Linked DNA regions of Homo sapiens: region 1 is linked to region 2. The links come from fine-mapping of genetic effects on gene expression. A gene starts in region 2. The other region holds a variant in brackets. All regions are shown on one strand. Distances are from middle to middle.

Region 1 (8,302 bases), 36 kb before region 2:
TAGGGTTTTTTTTTTTTTTCACCTCAACAGTTTTTGTGTTTTCTTTTTTTAATCTTGTTGCCTCTGAGTAGTAGACTCTTCAATTCTGGAATTTGGTTGCCGAAGACTCTAAAGGAGAGACTCACTCAGTAATTCAGTGACTTTAGAAGCAAGCTGAGTATCTCATTCTAAAATGACACTGATTTACACTGTTGAGAATGGTTAAGTACGTGGGGTACCTTGCAGCAAAAGACAAAAAGCAAAAAGCCAGTAGACCTGCAATTCACAGCTATTCCTGAGGGGTGCACATTGCAGCCCACTCTTGAGCTCCCCAGTGTTCTGAGCAGGGGACAGGGCATACTTCTAGTGATTTGCTCAGTTTAATCCCTTCATCCAAGAAAACAGACCTTCCCCAACCACACCTGCAGGGTTACTTCAGACAACCAGCTTCTCATTTTAGAGTCCCAGTTCCTAGAATTGGAGAAAGGAAGTTCCCCTTTAAGCCCTAGGTCCTGCCCACTAGAGCAGATACGCAACATTAAAGAGTGCAAATTCAAGTCAGTTTTTCATATTTAGCAAACATCCATTGCACCCTTATAAGGTCCTCGACTTTAAGAAATTTATATGAAATCGGAAAACTTAAATCTTGAAACTATACAAGGATCTACTGGAAGCATCAGCAGGCTAAACTCATCACATGGTATTTTCATTCCAAATTTAGTGTTATTGATCAGTGTACCCTCAGAATATCCTTAAGAAGCAGGAAGGAAACAAGTTTTCCTCTTCCCACTTCCAAGACTGAGAAAGAGTCCAGATGAGCTGGTTTGCCCAAGCAATTCTTATCACCAGATACTCCGTTATTAAACGTGTCTCCTGCCTTCTTTGAAAGCAACAGGAGAAATGAAGCATAGGAAAGTCTGCAAGCTAACAGTGTATCACCTAGGAGGCTTGTATATAAATATGAAGCTCTGCAAAATGTAGTTATAATGAAAGGCACTTCCTATTACCAGCTCCCTAACTCTTTTTAAAAGAATTCTATCTCCAGGGAAATAAAACTGGTTAAGACAGTGCTCTGATATGCTTAGTTTAGTTCCTTCATCCAAGAAAACAGACCTTCCCCAACCACACCTGCAGGGTTACTTCAGACAACCAGCTTCTCATTTTAGAGTCCCAGTTCTTAGAAATGGAGAAAGGAAGTTCCCCTTTAAGCCCTAGGTCCTGCCCACTAGAGCAGATACGCAACTTTAAAGAGTACAAATTCAAGTCAGATTTTCATATTTAGCAGGTGATCTTACAAAGATATTTTTCAATAAATGGATTATGTTTTTCAATGAATGGATCTTACAAAGATGTTTTTCAATAAATGGAAGGAAAGATGTGTGTGCTTGGTTTTTTTGCTGAGACCCAAATGTTGCCAGTGCAATCCCCCACCAGGGGTACAGGTCAAATCAAAGCTGAATGAAGAGCTCATCTTCGATGTAGCTTTCCAAGCTTTCAGAACGAGACAATAATAAGTGAGCAGCTTCCTCATCTATTTTACAGGTGAGGAAATTGAGGCCAAGAGAGAGGTAAAGAGTCGTGCTCTAGCCCATGAAAGAAGGAAGCAACAGAGCCCAGATTCAACTTCAGGTGTTTCTAACTCCAAAGCCTGAACCAAACTGCCTTCCTCTGATTGGCATTGGTACCTGGAACTTCACCTGTTCCAAGGAGCTGATATTTGCAAGGTGCCGTGGCTGAGGCAGGAGAATCGCTTGAACCTGGGAGGCAGAAGTTGTGGTGAGCCAAGATCGTGCCATTGCACTCCAGCCTGGGCAATAGAGGGAGACTCCGTCTCAAAAAAAAAAAAAAAAAAAAAAAAAAGCGGCAAAAGGCACCAAGACCCAGTGCTTCCCTGACCTCTGTTCCCTCTAAATCAGCATCTATCACAGTAGATCAACCTGGATAAAGCCAGGATTCACAGCAGAAGTGGCACCTCAGACACCAAAGCAGCTTTCCTTCTCAAAGCTTTTAAACATCATTGGGAAAACTTAGAGCAAATCAAACCAATGTTTTTCAATACATGGAAGGAAAGATGTGTGTGCTTGGTTTTGTTTTTTGCTGAGACCCAAACATTGTTAGTGCAAGCCCCCGCCAGGGGTGCAGGTGGAGTCAAAGCTGAATGAAGAGCTCGTCTTCAATGTAGCTCTCCAAGCTTTCAGAGCAAGACAACCATGGACCATCCTCTTCTTCAGACTGGCCTGTCTTCTTCTTGAACAATGTCACTTTGCTCCTCACTGCTGTCATCTGTATGGGGGGAAATAAACCCAATGCTTTGTAATCAGAGTGTGATTCTATTTCCACCGTCAGTCATCAATCATCTCAGTGATTTCTAGTCCTTTCCTGGTGAGCCACAGAATGGGATCTCATGGAGAAGGTAGGGCAGCGTGTGTTTTCCCCTTTTCACCTGTTTTCTACATTCAGAACCTCTAGGCATGCTTGATACCAGTCACCCTTCATGTCCTCAGCTCACGCCCCTCCCCTCACCTGAAACGCCCTCTCTCCTTTCTGCTTATTCCAACTCAGCCGTCTTAACGCCTTGCTTCATGTCTACCTCTTCCATAAAGCTTCCCCTGACCAGCACACCTCTCCGGGCTCTTATCTTTCTCTGAGGTCCTATAAATTTTGGTGCAGTGGCACGATCTCATCTCACTGCAGCCTCAACTTCCCAGGCTCAGGTGATTCTCCCACCTCAGCCTCCCAAGTAGCTGGGGCTACAGGTACATGCCACACACCCAGCTAATTTTTTGTATTCTTAGTAGAGACACGTTTTGCCATGTTCCCAAGGCTAGTCTCGAACTCCTGAGCTCCAGCGATCCACCCACTTTGGCCTCCCAAAGTGCTGGGATTACAGGCATGAGCAACCGTGCCTATAATTTTTAAATGTGTTGTCCATCAGGCAATTAATCAAATATCTTCCTGCAACAGCTCCTCTACTGCTCTCTCAGTGTGTTGGTTCAATCTTGCTCCTGTTTCCATTTCCCCTGCAGGTTTTAGTTTGTTCCCCTAAACTGGCCTTTTTTTTTTTTTTTTTGAGACAGAGTCTCACTCTGTCACCCAGGCTGAAGTGCAGTGGCACGATCTCGGCTCACTGCAGCCTCCGTCTCCCGGGTTCAAGTGATTCTCCTGCCTTGGTCTCCCAAGTAGCTGGGATTACAGGCACCTACCACACCCAGCTGATTTTTGTATTTTTAGTAGAGATGGGGGTCTCACCATGTTGGCCAGGCTGGTCTCAAACTCCTGACCTCAAATGATCCACCTGCCTCAGCCTCCCAAAATGCTGGGATTATAGGCGTGAGCCACCGCACCTGGCCTGAACTGGTCTTGTAAAGCTCCCTGCATGCAGACACTACCAGTCTCTATTTTCTGTTCTCCCACAATGCCAATATTGTGCCTACCCTAGACCAGGACCTTGATAAGTGTTTGTCAATTTGATTTTCATGTTGGTAGTTGATAGTAGTCTCAGGTTCTAGACTAAAGTTTAGCTATCTTCCCCAGCCTTTTAAAAAAACTAAACTCACCCCTTAGAGATTTCCTGCTGGGAAGCTCACCGCAGCAGTTCAGAGGTTTGTGGGCTTTTTTTTTTTTTTTTTTTTTTCTGAGGCAGGTTTCCTACTGCTGCCCAGACTGGAGTGCAGTGGTGTGATCATAGCTCACTGCAGCCTGGACTTCCTACACTCAAGTGATCCTCAGCCTCCCAAGTAGCTGGGAACACAGGTGCACACCACCATGACCGGCTAATTTTTCTTTTTTTTTTTTTTTTTTTTCGTAGAGACAGAGTCTCACCATGTTGCCCAGGCTAGTCTTGAACTTCTGGGCTTAAGTGATCTTCCCACCTTGGCCTCCCAAAGTGCTGGGATTATAGGCGTGAGCCAACGCGCCTTTTTTTGTTTGTTTTCTGTTTGTTTGTTTAAGGAAAAAGAGCTTACCTTGAAGATCCTGGAATCCATTTCCCATCTGTTCTATGTTCCCATTCACCAAGGCGGTCACTCTGTGAATGTGGTCCTGCTTAGGTATTTCTTTTGGCAACTCCTCTCTCTCACGTGCTCCCTCCTGTTCCCCTACTGCAGCATCTTCCTCCTCCTCCTCCTCCTCCTCCTCTTCCTCTTCTGAATCCACCAAAACCATGACATCATCCATGTTTTGTCCCCTAATTTCCAAAGGGGAAAAATAATCAAGAAGATTTCTTATTTTTCCCAACTTCAGCCCTCACTGAATAGGAAACACTAGATTCTTTGCAACCCCATTAGTAATATGGAAAATTACAGCTTGGTGAAGTAATGAGGTGATGGTGTGGTAACCGCAGAGATGCTGCCACAAATTGCTTCAGATGATGGTATCTCATGCTGGTTTATTACTCCCCTGCTCCTTGGGCAGGTGACCATATTGTCCCAGGCATCTACCATTTCATGTCCCCTTACAGCAGGTAGACAAATGTTTTTCCTTTTCTGAAATGCCCTCATTCTGCTCTACTTACCAAAATCTCTCCCCTTCCTCATTTTGGAAGACCCAGGTAAAGTCCTCTCCCTCCTGCTAAAGACCTAAATTAATGACTGCATTTAGAGTCCATGCTATAGTTTATTTATCACCAGCTCACTAGCTTGCCTACCCAGCCAGACTTTGCATTTCAGACTATACATTTCTTTTTTTTTTCTTTTTCGGGATAGAGTCTTGCGCTGTTGCCCAGGCTAGAGTGCAGTGGCGCAATCTTGGCTCACTGCAACCTCCACCT[C/T]CTGGGTGCAAGCAATTCTCCTGCCTCAGCCACCCAAGTAGCTGGGACTACAGGCATGCGCCACCACATCTGGCTAATTTTTGTATTTTTAGTAGAGACATGGTTTCAACATGTTGGCCAGGCTGGTCTCGAATGCCTGGCCTCAAGTGATCCAACCACCTTGGCCTCCCAGAGTGCTGAGATTATAGGCATGAGCCACTGTTGTGCCCGGCCTGGACTGTGCATTTCTTCTTCTTCTTCTTCTTCTTTTTTTTTTTTTTTTTGAGACAGAGTTTCATTCTTGTTGCCCAGGCTGGAGTGCAATGGCACAATCATGGCTCACCGCAACCTCTGCCTCCCAGGTTCAAGCAATTCTCCTGCTTCAACCTCCCAAGCAGCTGGGATTACAGGCATGCGCCACTACATGCGGCTAATTTTTTGTATTTTTAGTAGAGATGGGGTTTCTGCATGTTGGTCAGGCTGGTCTCGAACTCCCGACCTCAGGTGATCCACCCGCCTCGGCCTCCCAAAGTGCTGGGATTACAGGCGTGAGCCACTGCACCCGGCCTGGACTATGCATTTCTTAAGGAAGAAGAATGAACGCCACAGGTCAGTCACCTGCCCGAGGAGCTGTGTTACATTGTCATTTAATCTTCACAAACCCCCTGGTGAAACAAATCAGGAGACTAAGGCTCAGAAAGGGTCAGGGATTTTCTATGGGTACAGGGCTTGGGAATGGCACAGCTGTCATTTGAACCCAGGTCCAATGGTCTCAGTGCCTTTTCCTACTACACCACACTGATGCCTCCAGTGAGAAATAAGCCCAGGGAATGACAGACTTACTAAGAATGGCCCTCCAATACAGGGCAGTAAAGGTAATGTTTTGCTACGAAAGATGGTCCCAGGTCAATAATATCCTGTCATTTTGAAGAGGTAAAGAACTGTTTTTCCATAGGATCATAGAGAAGAGTACTCTGCTCCCACCCAGAATCTCCTTAGGAAATGAAATACACAAGTTCCGTTTGGTTCCTTCGCCCCTACTGGGGTTTCCTTTTGGGAGGGGGTTCTGGGCATGCTCATAGTAGTCTTCCAAAACACTGTAAAACTGGCTGGGTGCAGTGGCTCGTGCCTGTAATCCCGGCACTTTGGGAGGCCGAGGCGGGCAGACCACTTGAGGCCAGGAGTTTGAGACTAGCCTGGGCAACATGGTGAAACCCTGTCTCTACTAAAAATACAAAAATTAGCCAGGCTTGATGGTGCGCACCTGTAATCCCAACTACTCGGAAGGCTGAGGCAGGAGAATGGCCTCAACCTGGGAGGTAGGGATTGCAGTGAGCTGAGACTGCACCACTGCACTCCAGCCTGAGCAAGAGAGAGAGATTCTGTCTCAAAAAAAAAAAAAAAAAGAAAAAAGAAAAAGAAAAAAAAACTTAAGACTATGACTGATTCTTTCTTTTAGCTCTTTTTAGAAAATTAAATAAAACAAATGCATGAATGACTGGCTCAAAATGTACACATTGTCTTTCTGTCTCAATGACAGACCTGCAATGTGTCCAGCCCTGAGGTTTGGCGCTGTAAAAGAACACAGACTTTGGAATTGATTAGACCTGGACCTGAAGGAAGGCACTGCTGCTTTCTTCTGGAATGAGCTTGCAGAAATTACTTCACTGAGCCTCCATCCCCTTATCTGGAAAATGGAGATGTCACCACCACCCTGAGGAGATGATGAAAGGGTTTATAAGAATACCTGATGAAATCCCTAGGCCAGTGTCTAGCACATCGTAGGTCCTCAATGGTAGTTGCTATTATTGTTCTTGTGAAAGGAAGGGAACAAAACAGAAGTGAAGACAGATGCGGGAATGGGTGTTTGGTTTGATTCTAGGGAACACTCACCTGGAAGTGTTTCCTACTGAAGAGAGAAAGGAAAAACCATTAATATCCAGTAACATCCACTTCAACCTGACAGGTTCTTAATCAGGCAAACATTTACTAGAGGAACAAATAAGAAAACTGACTCAATATGACAGGTGATAGGGTGTCCCGGGATGGTACTTAGGTGACTTATTACTGTGTATCTTGACCCAGCAAAGAAGCCCAGAGAACAGAACTTCAGGTGGGAGCAAGGCAGGGGCCATCCTTCCCCATCCCGCACCTTTTCAAAAGTCTGGAAGAGAAGCTAAAGGACCCAGGGAGTCCTTACCTTTCCAGCAGAACACAGGGCTATAATGCAACAGAAGCCCTGAGATAATGGCCAGTCCCAGCAGAAGGAGGCTCACAATGGTTCCCACAATCCCCCCGATATTTAAAGGTTCTGTAAAGACAAATCACACCATTGATTCTTCCATCAGATATGTGTGCAATTAGAACAACACCTCCCTTTCTCTGCGTGGATCCAGTTCTTGTCTTGATTCCTGACCTTGGGTAAGGCTTATGACCTGTCTGTAATGCCAGATAAATATTTTATCACCCAACCTCAGAGAGTTTGTGGGGATCAGATGGAGCAGGGAATGTGAACAAACAATGGAAAGTTAAAATCTCTCTGTCTACCAAACACTGAGACTATTTCTAAGGCCATGGTAAGTAAGAGTGTTGAGAGTTATCAATGCCATGATAAACAGAGTGATCAACGGAACAGAACAGAGAGTCCAGGAACGGGTCCACACGTAAGTATAATTGATATATGACAGGGTCTTGAGCAAAGGAAGCACTATTTAAGAATTGGTACTAGAGCCCGGGCGCAGTGGCGCATGCCTGTAATCCCAGCACTTTGGGAGGCTGAGGAGGGCGGATCACCTGAAGTCGGGAGATCGAGACCAGCCTGACCAACATGTTAAAACCCCGTCTCTACTAAAAATACAAAATTAGCCAGGTGTGGTGGTGCATGTCTGTAATCCCAGCTACTTGGGAGGCTGAGGCAGGAGAATCACTTGAACCCGGGAGGCGGGGGTTGCGGTGAGCCAAGATCGCGCCATTGCACTCCAGCCTGGGCAACAAGAGCGAAATTCCATCTCAAAGAAAGAAAGAGGGCCGGGCGCGGTGGCTCACGCCTGTAATCCCAGCACTTTGGGAGGCCGAGGCAGGCGGATCACGAGGTCAGGAGGTCGAGACCATCCTGGCTAACACAGTGAAACCCCATCTCTACTAAAAATACAAAAAATTAGCCGGGCACAGCGGCGGGCGCCTGCAGTCCCAGCTACTTGGGAGGCTGAGGCAGGAGAATGGCATGAACCCAGGAGGTGGAGCTTGCAGTGAGCCGAGATCGCACCACTGCACTCCAGCCTGGGTGACAGAGCAAGACTCCGTCTCAAAAAAAAAAAAGAAAGAAAGAGGAGGGGAGGGGAGGGAAAGAAAAGAAGGAAGGTAGGAAAGGGAAAAGGGAGAAGAGAAAGGAAAAGGGAGAAGGGAAGGGAAGAAAGAGGCCAGGTGTGGTGGCTCATGCTTGCAATCTCAACACTTTGGGAGGCTGAGATGGGAGGCTCACTTCAGGCCAGGAGTTCAAGACCAACCTGGTCAACACAGTGCGACCTCATCTGTATAAAAAATAAAATAAAAAGAAATAAGTAGAGACATATATAG
Region 2 (8,330 bases):
CGCTAAGTTTTTGTATTTTTGTAGAGACAGGGTTTCACTGTGTTGGCCAGGCTGGTCTTGAACTCCTGACCTCAGGTGATCTGCCCACTTCGGCCTCCAAAAGTGCTGGGATTACAGGCGGGAGCCACCGCACCCAGCCAAGAATTATTTTTAAATTATTAGGATTGGGAACCCAAATTATCCAGTGGCAACCGCCACAATGGAAAGGAAGATGAACTTCAGAGTTACAGATGCAACATGTGTTCATGCAACCTGCAGACCTGCCCCTTGCCTAACTCCTTGGCAAAGAAATAAAGGAACAGTGGCTTGGAAAAAAGCCGTGGTGAAACTTTAGTCTTGGAACTTGAGCTAACATTGTTTTCTCCTCCAAGGCATAGAATGACATGATCACAAAAGAAACCATTTGAAGACATTTCACTTCTCCTGGTTTGGCTTACTCCGTTCTTTTTTAAACCACTGTATCTGAAGGTGCCCTTGGAGATCATCTAGTCCAGAGATGTGGCTGCCCTGTGGGCTGGGTTGAAGATGAGATTGAGTCCTGGTTCAGTGGAAAAGAACACAGTCATCGATTTAGTGATGTCTGACATAGACATGGAAGGGGTAGTTCTTGCCTGGCAGTCCTAAACCTCCTCACTTTACTACTGAGAAAATTGAGATTTAGGAAGATTAAGTTATCACTTAAAGTCCCAAGCAAATCACTGGGAGATGTGGGATTGTCACTCAGGTCACGTTACTCTGGTCTCCTGCACCAGACAGGATGCAATGATAAAATATAGTAACAAGTTTAGAAGTCATTCATATGGTGTCCAGAGGGTCCTTCTTGCCCCCCAACCTTAAATGTACAATAGAGAACCGAAGAGGGAGTAATATAAACTCCCTGATGCTGCCCATGTATTATTATTTACAGAGTAGGAGTTATACCCAAACATTTATTTATTTTTTTAAAGCAACTTTTCCCAAGAATAACCTAGGATTTACAATCCGGGGTAGCTAGTGGATGCATATAAGTTGTCTGGCATTGAATGTCAGGAGAAAAATTTTTTTCCCCAAAAACTCCCAACTTAAAAAACAAACACACAACAAAAATACACCAAGCTCAGGAAGCCCCCTGGCATCATACACAAAGGTGAAGCAGGTCTGGGCATCAAAATAGCTGGGCAAAGGCCCAACACGGTGGCTCACACCCATAATCCCAACACTTTGGGAGGCCGAGACAGGAGGATCGCTTGGGTCCAGGAGTTTAAGACCAGCCTGGGCTCAAGCGATTGTAGAGACCGTCTCTACAAAAAAATTTTAGAAATTAGCTAGGCGTGGTGGTGCACGCCTGTAGTCCCAGCTACTTGTAGGCTGAGGTGGGAGGATCAGTGCAGTGATTGCACCACTGCACTCCAGCCTGGGCAACAGAGCGAGAGCCTGGCTCGAAAAAAATAGCTGGCCATAGCAGTGGAGATAGGTTCCCCATGGGGCGGGTGGCAGTCAGCCTGAAAGCCAGGTCATTCCAGCAGGATGACTTCATCCCAGGGTTCTTCTCACTTCCCAGGTTCCTGGTGTTCATCGTGCAGGAAACACTGCAAACAGCTGGGGAGATGGGAATACTTGACAACCACCTTTCACGTCCAGAGATGACCAACTAGGAACTGTCCTCCCCCATCACCCACACCCCAGCACAGTGATTACTCAGCCAAATGCCTGCAGGGCCAGCAGGTAACACCCATGACTGAAGGTGGCGGGGCAAATATTACAACAGGGAGAGGTGGAACAAATTTGGGCTCATATGCCCTAGATAAGAGGATGACCACTGCCCAATTCCAACTGGGAAAGCAGGCCCCGTGTTGCCAGACCTTCAGATTTTTCCAGATAAACTGGAAATCTAGAGATGTTATTGTTTTTAAATGGTTGGTTAAAAAAAAAAAAGCAAAATAAAATTGTATGAGCCTAATAATTAGGAACTCTTGGCACTTGCTGCTAAGAAGCTCCAGCATACTTTACAACCCATCTCCAGAAACGTGCAAGAGGAGACCCGTTGGGTGGAGCAGACCCGGGAACACAAAAAGTAGCGCTCTGCCTGCATCCTGGCAAACTTCACCACCTCCTGGCTCCATCTCCTCTCCCTGCACCCCAGCCTCCTCCCAGCTTGTCACACTCCCAGCACACAGTAGGCATGCACAGTAGGCATGCTGGTGAATTAAATTCAAATATATATAAATAGTTCAATCTTTTTACATTCTACATATTTTTGTAAGCACCCCTCCAATTCTTTTTTCGTAGCAAAGCAGACCATAGATGAAGCATTTCAGACCTTTTGTCAATCATGTCAAGTGTGAGGGGAAGTCTTTTGTAAGTCAGCCAAGTATTTCAAAATAAAAAGCTTTTCCAAAAGTAAAGGCGGAAGACCCCGCTTTGAAGGCGCTGGTCGGCACAGGAAGACTTGCAAAGGTGTGTAGGGAAGTCCACCGGTTACAGGTGTAAGGCGAGTTCAACCTTGGGCAGAGGGAGGAGAAAAATAAAGTGGGAGTCTCGAGTTTGAGCACCAGCGTATCAGTTACTACTAAAACCAGAACGCGAATTTACATCCGACGCTTAAAAAAAAAAATCACTTTCCCGGCACACGTGCCTCTTTACTTTGCCCCCGCACGTCGGCTCGGCTCGGCTCCTCTGCAGCCTCACCGGCTGCCCACCCCAGGAGGCTGGGGGTATCTCGCCCCGCACCGGGCGCCCGGGAAAACTCCTTCCTGCAAAGACGGCCGAGCTGCGAGCAGGAAACCAAGACCCTCCTGGGGCAGCTTCTAGGCTGGGGCCACCACGGATCCGGGCGGAGTCGGAGGGAATTGGGTCTCTCGCTGTCCCCTCCCCACCGCTGACTGGGAAAACTCAACTTTTCCCTCCAGATCGCGGCCCCTTACCTACGGCGACCCAGCCGGCCAGGAGCGCCCCGAGGCAGACGAGGACGCGGGGCTCGGGCGCACTGCCGCCTGCGGCCATCTCGCCCCAGATCCCGGCTCAGGAAACGCAGGCTCGGGCTGGGCTGGACGTGTGTGCCCCAGGGCCCCGGGGCCCGGGGTACCGAGGGCTCCTCCCAGGTCCTCGGAACGGCAGAGTGGCCCCACTTCCTCGGCCCCCAGGAAGGATGCTTGGCTGAGCCGAGTGTCCAGGGCCGGCAGCGGAGCTCGGCTGCAGGCTCGGGTCCCCGCTCCCGAGCGCCCTGGCCGGGGAGGGAGGGCGCACCCCGCCCCCTGCGCCCGCCAGCCTACTCCTGCCGGCGGAAAACAACAGGAGCGGGATCCCTCCCGCCTCCCAGCCAGGCGGGAGCCCAACTTCCTCTACCTTGGCCCGGGAGGAGGGCTTTCTGCCGAGGGCGCGCCGAGCCGGGTCCCGCCGGGCCAGGGGCGGGGCGCGGAGGCTGGGCCCTCCCCAGTCCACTCCGCCCGGGACAGCAGTACCGAGTCGCGGGGACAGCGGGCGGGACGGAGCCCTGCAGCTGCCGCAGGACGCAACCCCCGCCGCTGCCCCGGGCTGCAGAACCCGGAGGAAGCGGTTGCCAAGCTGCAGAACGCAGGACCCCCCTGGCAGTCCCCGCTGAGCGTCTCGAGGGATTCCGGTCTGTGTCCCTGGGCGCAGGGCGGGCGCCAAGGCCGCCATCGCTTCCTTTCCTTACCCTCTGCAAAAGGGAGCCAGAGAAAGATGATCCCCTGACTTTCAGCCAAAGCAGCCACGAGACTCCGGTTCTCCAGTGAACTGGCTGGGACCACACAGTGACAGCGAGAGCCAAGGAGTCCCCAGGACGTGTTTCTCAAGAGTTTTGTTTTTGCTTTTCCCCTTTTAGTTCTCCCACCCCTTACCCAGTCAGATTCCCAGGCTAAGCTCCTCTCTTCCCTGCCATGCCCTCATCCCATTCTGTCCTGGGGAAAATGCGGCTTTGATATCCTCAGGAAGAGCCATCCATAAAACAGCCCTAGGAGAAACTTCCTGTTTCAAATAATAATAATATGGCAGGGCGTGGTGGCTCACACCTGTAATCCCAGCACTTTGGGAGGCCGAGGTGGGCGGATCACAAGGTCAGGAGTTCGAGACCAGCCTGACCAACATGGTGAAACCCTGTCTCTACTAAAAATACAACAATTAGCCGGGCATGATGGCGGGCGCCTGTAATCCCAGCTACTGGGTAGGCTGAGGCAGGAGAATCGCTTGAACCCAGCAGGCGGAGGTTGCAGTGAGCCGATATCACGCCATTGCACTCCAGCCTGGGCGACTGAGCGAGACTCCATCTCAAAATAAATATTAACGTTAAAAAAAAATCATTAGTTCTGTTGTTCAACGGTCCCCTTATTGAAATGCTTCTTCCATGAGGAAATCCTCTTGAAACCACTTTAAAAAAAAAATGTTTCTCCTGGTGAACTGAGCAATGAAGCTGAACAGTTCTGCCTTTTTTACTTTTCTGTTTTTTATTTTTTTGAGACAGGGTGTCACTCCAGTTGCCCAGGCTAGAGTGCAGTAGCACAATCATACCTCGCTGCAGCCTCAAACTACCAGGCTCAAGTGATCCTCCCACCTCAGCCTCCCGAGTAGCTGGGACTACAGGTGTGCAGCACCACGCCCAGCTAATTTTTGTAATTTTAGTAAAGACAGCGTTTCTCCATGTTACCCAGGCTGGTCTCGAACTCCTGACCTCAAGTGATCCACCCGCCTTGGCCTGCCAAAGTGTTGGGATTACAGGTGCGAGCCACCGCGCTCAGCCCTTTTTTATTCTTTGCTCAAATATTTTTAAATAACTGTTCATCAGCCGGGCACGTTGGCTCATGCCTGTAATCCCAGCACTTTGGGAGGCCGAGGCAGGTGGATCACCTGAGGTAAGGAGTTCGAGAGTAGCCTGGCCAACATGGTGAAACTTCGTCTCTACTAAAAATACAAAAATTAGCCCGGTGTGGTGGCAGGCGCCTGTAATCCCAGCTACTTGGGAGGCTGAGGCAGGAGAATCGCTTGAACCCAGGAGGTGGAGGTTGCAGTGAGCCGAGATCGCGCCATTGCACTCCAGCCTGGGGAGAAGAGCGAGACTTCGTCTCAAAAAAAATAAATAAATAAAAAATAAAATAAAATAACTGTTCATCAGATTCTTGACAGGAATTTTGTTTGTTTGTTTTTTGAGACGGAGTCTCGCTCTGTCGCTGCAAGCTCCGCCTCCCAGGCTCATGCCATTCTCCTGCCTCAGCCTCCCAAGTAGCTGGGACTACAGGCTCCTGCCACCACGCCCGGATAATTTTTGTATTTTTAGTGGAGACGGGGTTTCACCGTGTTAGTGTGGGGAAAAGCAAGAGAGATCAGATTGTTACTGTGTCTGTGTAGAAAGAAGTAGACATGGGAGACTCCATTTTGTTATGTACTAAGAAAAATTCTTCTGCCTTGAGATTCTGTGACCTTACCCCCAACCCCGTGCTCTCTGAAACATGTGCTGTGTCAAACTCAGGGTTAAATGGATTAAGGGCGGTGCAAGATGTGCTTTGTTAAACAGATGCTTGAAGGCAGCATGCTCCTTAAGAGTCATCACCACTCCCTAATCTCAAGTACCCAGGGACACAAACACTGCGGAAGGCCGCAGGGACCTCTGCCTAGGAAAGCCAGGTATTGTCCAAGGTTTCTCCCCATGTGATAGTCTGAAATATGGCCTTGTGGGAAGGGAAAGACCTGACTGCCCCCAGCCCGACACCCGTAAAGGGTCTGTGCTGAGGAGGATTAATATAAGAGGAAGGCATGCCTCTTGCAGTTGAGACAAGAGGAAGGCATCTGTCTCCTGCCCCTCCCTGGGCAATGGAATGTCTCGGTATAAAACCCGATTGTACGTTCCATCTACTGAGATAGGGAAAAACCGCCTTAGGGCTGGAGGTGGGACCTGCGGGCAGCAATACTGCTTTGTAAAGCATTGAGATGTTTATGTGTATGCATATCTAAAAGCACAGCACTTAATCCTTTACCTTGTCTATGATGCATAGACCTTTGTTCACGTGTTTGTCTGCTGACCCTCTCCCCACAATTGTCTTGTGACCCTGACACATCCCCCTCTCGGAGAAACACCCACGAATGATCAATAAATACTAAGGGAACTCAGAGGCTGGCGGGATCCTCCATATGCTGAACGCTGGTTCCCCGGGTCCCCTTATTTCTTTCTCTATACTTTGTCTCTGTGTCTTTTTCTTTTCCAAGTCTCTCGTTCCACCTTACGAGAAACACCCACAGGTGTGGAGGGGCAACCCACCCCTTCAGTTAGCCAGGATGGTCTCGATCTCCTGACCTCGTGATCCACCTGCCTCGGCTTCCCAAAGTGCTGGGATTACACGCGTGAGCCACCACACCCGGCCTGGAATTTTTTTTTTTTTTTTTTTTTAGACAGAGTCTCCCTATATCATCCAGGCTGAAGTGCAGTGGTGTAATCATACCTCACTGCAGCCTCAACCTCCTAGGCTTAAGTCAATCCTCCCAGAGTGCTGGAATTACAGGCATGAGCCACTGCACCCAACTTGGTTCTTGCTTTTCATGTTTGACCTTGTGGAGATCCTATACTAACCAGACCTGTTTCCTGTATCCTCAGTACCTGCCAGCTAGTTGCCATTCTAATATACATTTGTTGAGTAAACAAATGAGAATTGATTAGTTTTGATATTGTAGTTCCTCAGCTTTTCTGGCAAACACCTTACATCCTCACCTGCAATAAACAAGCGGTAAATAAAATCAGTAACTGGGCCAGGCAAGGTGGCTCATGCCTATAATCCCAGCACTCAGGAAAGCCAAGGTGGGCAGATCCCTTGAGGTCAGGAGTTCGAGACCAGCCTAGCCAACACAGTGAAACCCCATCTCTACTAAAAATAAAAAATTAGCTGGGCATGGTGGCGCATGCTCGTAATCCCAGCTACTTGAAAGGCTGAGGCAGGAGGGTTGCTGGAACCTGGGAGGTGGAGGTTGTAGTGAGCTGAGATTGTGCCACTGCACTCCAGCCTGGACAACACAGAGAGACACTGCTCAAAATAAATAAATAAATAAATAAATAAATAAATAAATAAATAAATATTTTTAATTAAAAAAATAAAACCAATAACTGGCCAGTTTTCAGCAGAGGGCCTGGAATTCTCCATGGCCTCATGGTGGCTTGCCCAGGGCGGCCTTCCTGACATATTGGCGAGGTCGATGCATAGTTCTAATCTCACTGGACCCTCCCTGCAACCCTTGGACCTAAGGTGCAGTGCCACATACCATCGGTTTTATTTATTTATTTTTGAGATGGAGTCTTGCTCTGTCCCCCAGGCTGGAGTGCAGTGGCATGATTTCCGCTCACTGCAGCCTCCGCCTCCTGGGTTCAAGCCATTCTCCTGCCTCCGTCTCCCAAGTAGCTGGGATTACAGGTTCACGCCACCACACCTGGCTAATTTTTGTATTTTTAGAAGAGATGGGGTTTCACCTTGTTGGCCAGATTGGTCTTGAACTCCTGACCTCAAGTGATCTGCCTGCCTCAGCCTCCCAAAATGCTGGGATTACAGGCGTGAGCCACCACGCCTGGCCGGCCATCCAGTTTTATAAGTGAGCAACCTACAGCTCTGGGAGGTTAACTCTGAGTCACACAGCCGGCTGGCTGGTGGTAAAGCCACGACTGACTGTGTGACTGCAACTCCAGCCCCACAAAGTTGCACATTTGTCACATGTGCAAAGGCTGCCAGGGCTAAGGGGACATGCATCTGAATGCTCTGTGTGTCACTGGATGATCAGACACCAGCCTTCACCTGAGCAGAGCTGGCCTGGAAAACACCACCCTCTTTGTTTTGACTGCAGGGGCTCAAGCCAGCCCTGAGTCAGAAGCTGTGTAAGGAGCTGCCCTGATGTCCACTTGCATTTCAGGTCACTCTGGACAGTAGAAAGTACCCTGCCTAGAACAATGTTCAGTGAGTTGGGAGTTTTGCATGGGGTCCCCAGCAATGTAGGGTCCTTTTAGAGCCCAAGTTTCCCTATCAGCAAAATAGACCTAATATTTATCTCATGGGATGTTGTAAAGATAAACTAGGTTGGGCTTTGAGGCCTAGGCTGGAAGACTTCTTGAGGCCAAGAGCTTGAGACCACCATGGGGCAACATGGCAAGACCCCCATGTCTCAAAAAAAAAAATTTTTTTTTTAATTAGCCAGGGCCAGATGCAGTAGCTCACACCCATAATCTTGGCACTTTGGGAGGCTGAGGCTGGAGGATCACTTGAGCTCAGGAGTTCAAGATCACCCTGAGCAACATAGTGAAACCTTGTCTCTACAGATTTTTTTAACTTAGCCAGGCATAGTGGCACACCTATAGTCCTAGCTAC

Evidence for each region.
Region 1: its variant is fine-mapped to the expression of VSIG10 in whole blood (INTERVAL, PIP above 0.99).

What each region holds. Positions count from the first base shown.
Region 1 is chr12:118,064,433-118,072,734 of GRCh38, forward strand. VSIG10 (V-set and immunoglobulin domain containing 10) reads right to left here. Exons shown (of 9, transcript NM_019086.6): 6 at 6,927-7,037; 7 at 6,620-6,635; 8 at 3,945-4,165; 9 at 1-2,262. The coding sequence ends at 2,207. All of the region lies in intron 1 of LOC124903030 (a long non-coding RNA gene), which reads left to right. Among named protein-coding and RNA genes, the nearest start is that of WSB2, 7.4 kb to the left of the region's middle. The variant C/T (reference allele first, on the strand shown) is at 4,748.
Region 2 is chr12:118,100,690-118,109,019 of GRCh38, forward strand. VSIG10 (V-set and immunoglobulin domain containing 10) reads right to left here and starts at 3,322. Exons shown (of 9, transcript NM_019086.6): 1 at 2,904-3,322. The coding sequence starts at 2,982. LOC124903029 (a long non-coding RNA gene) reads right to left here and starts at 2,893. Exons shown (of 2, transcript XR_007063478.1): 1 at 2,300-2,893; 2 at 916-1,578. RefSeq lists a silencer at 3,166-3,415 and an enhancer at 5,057-5,772.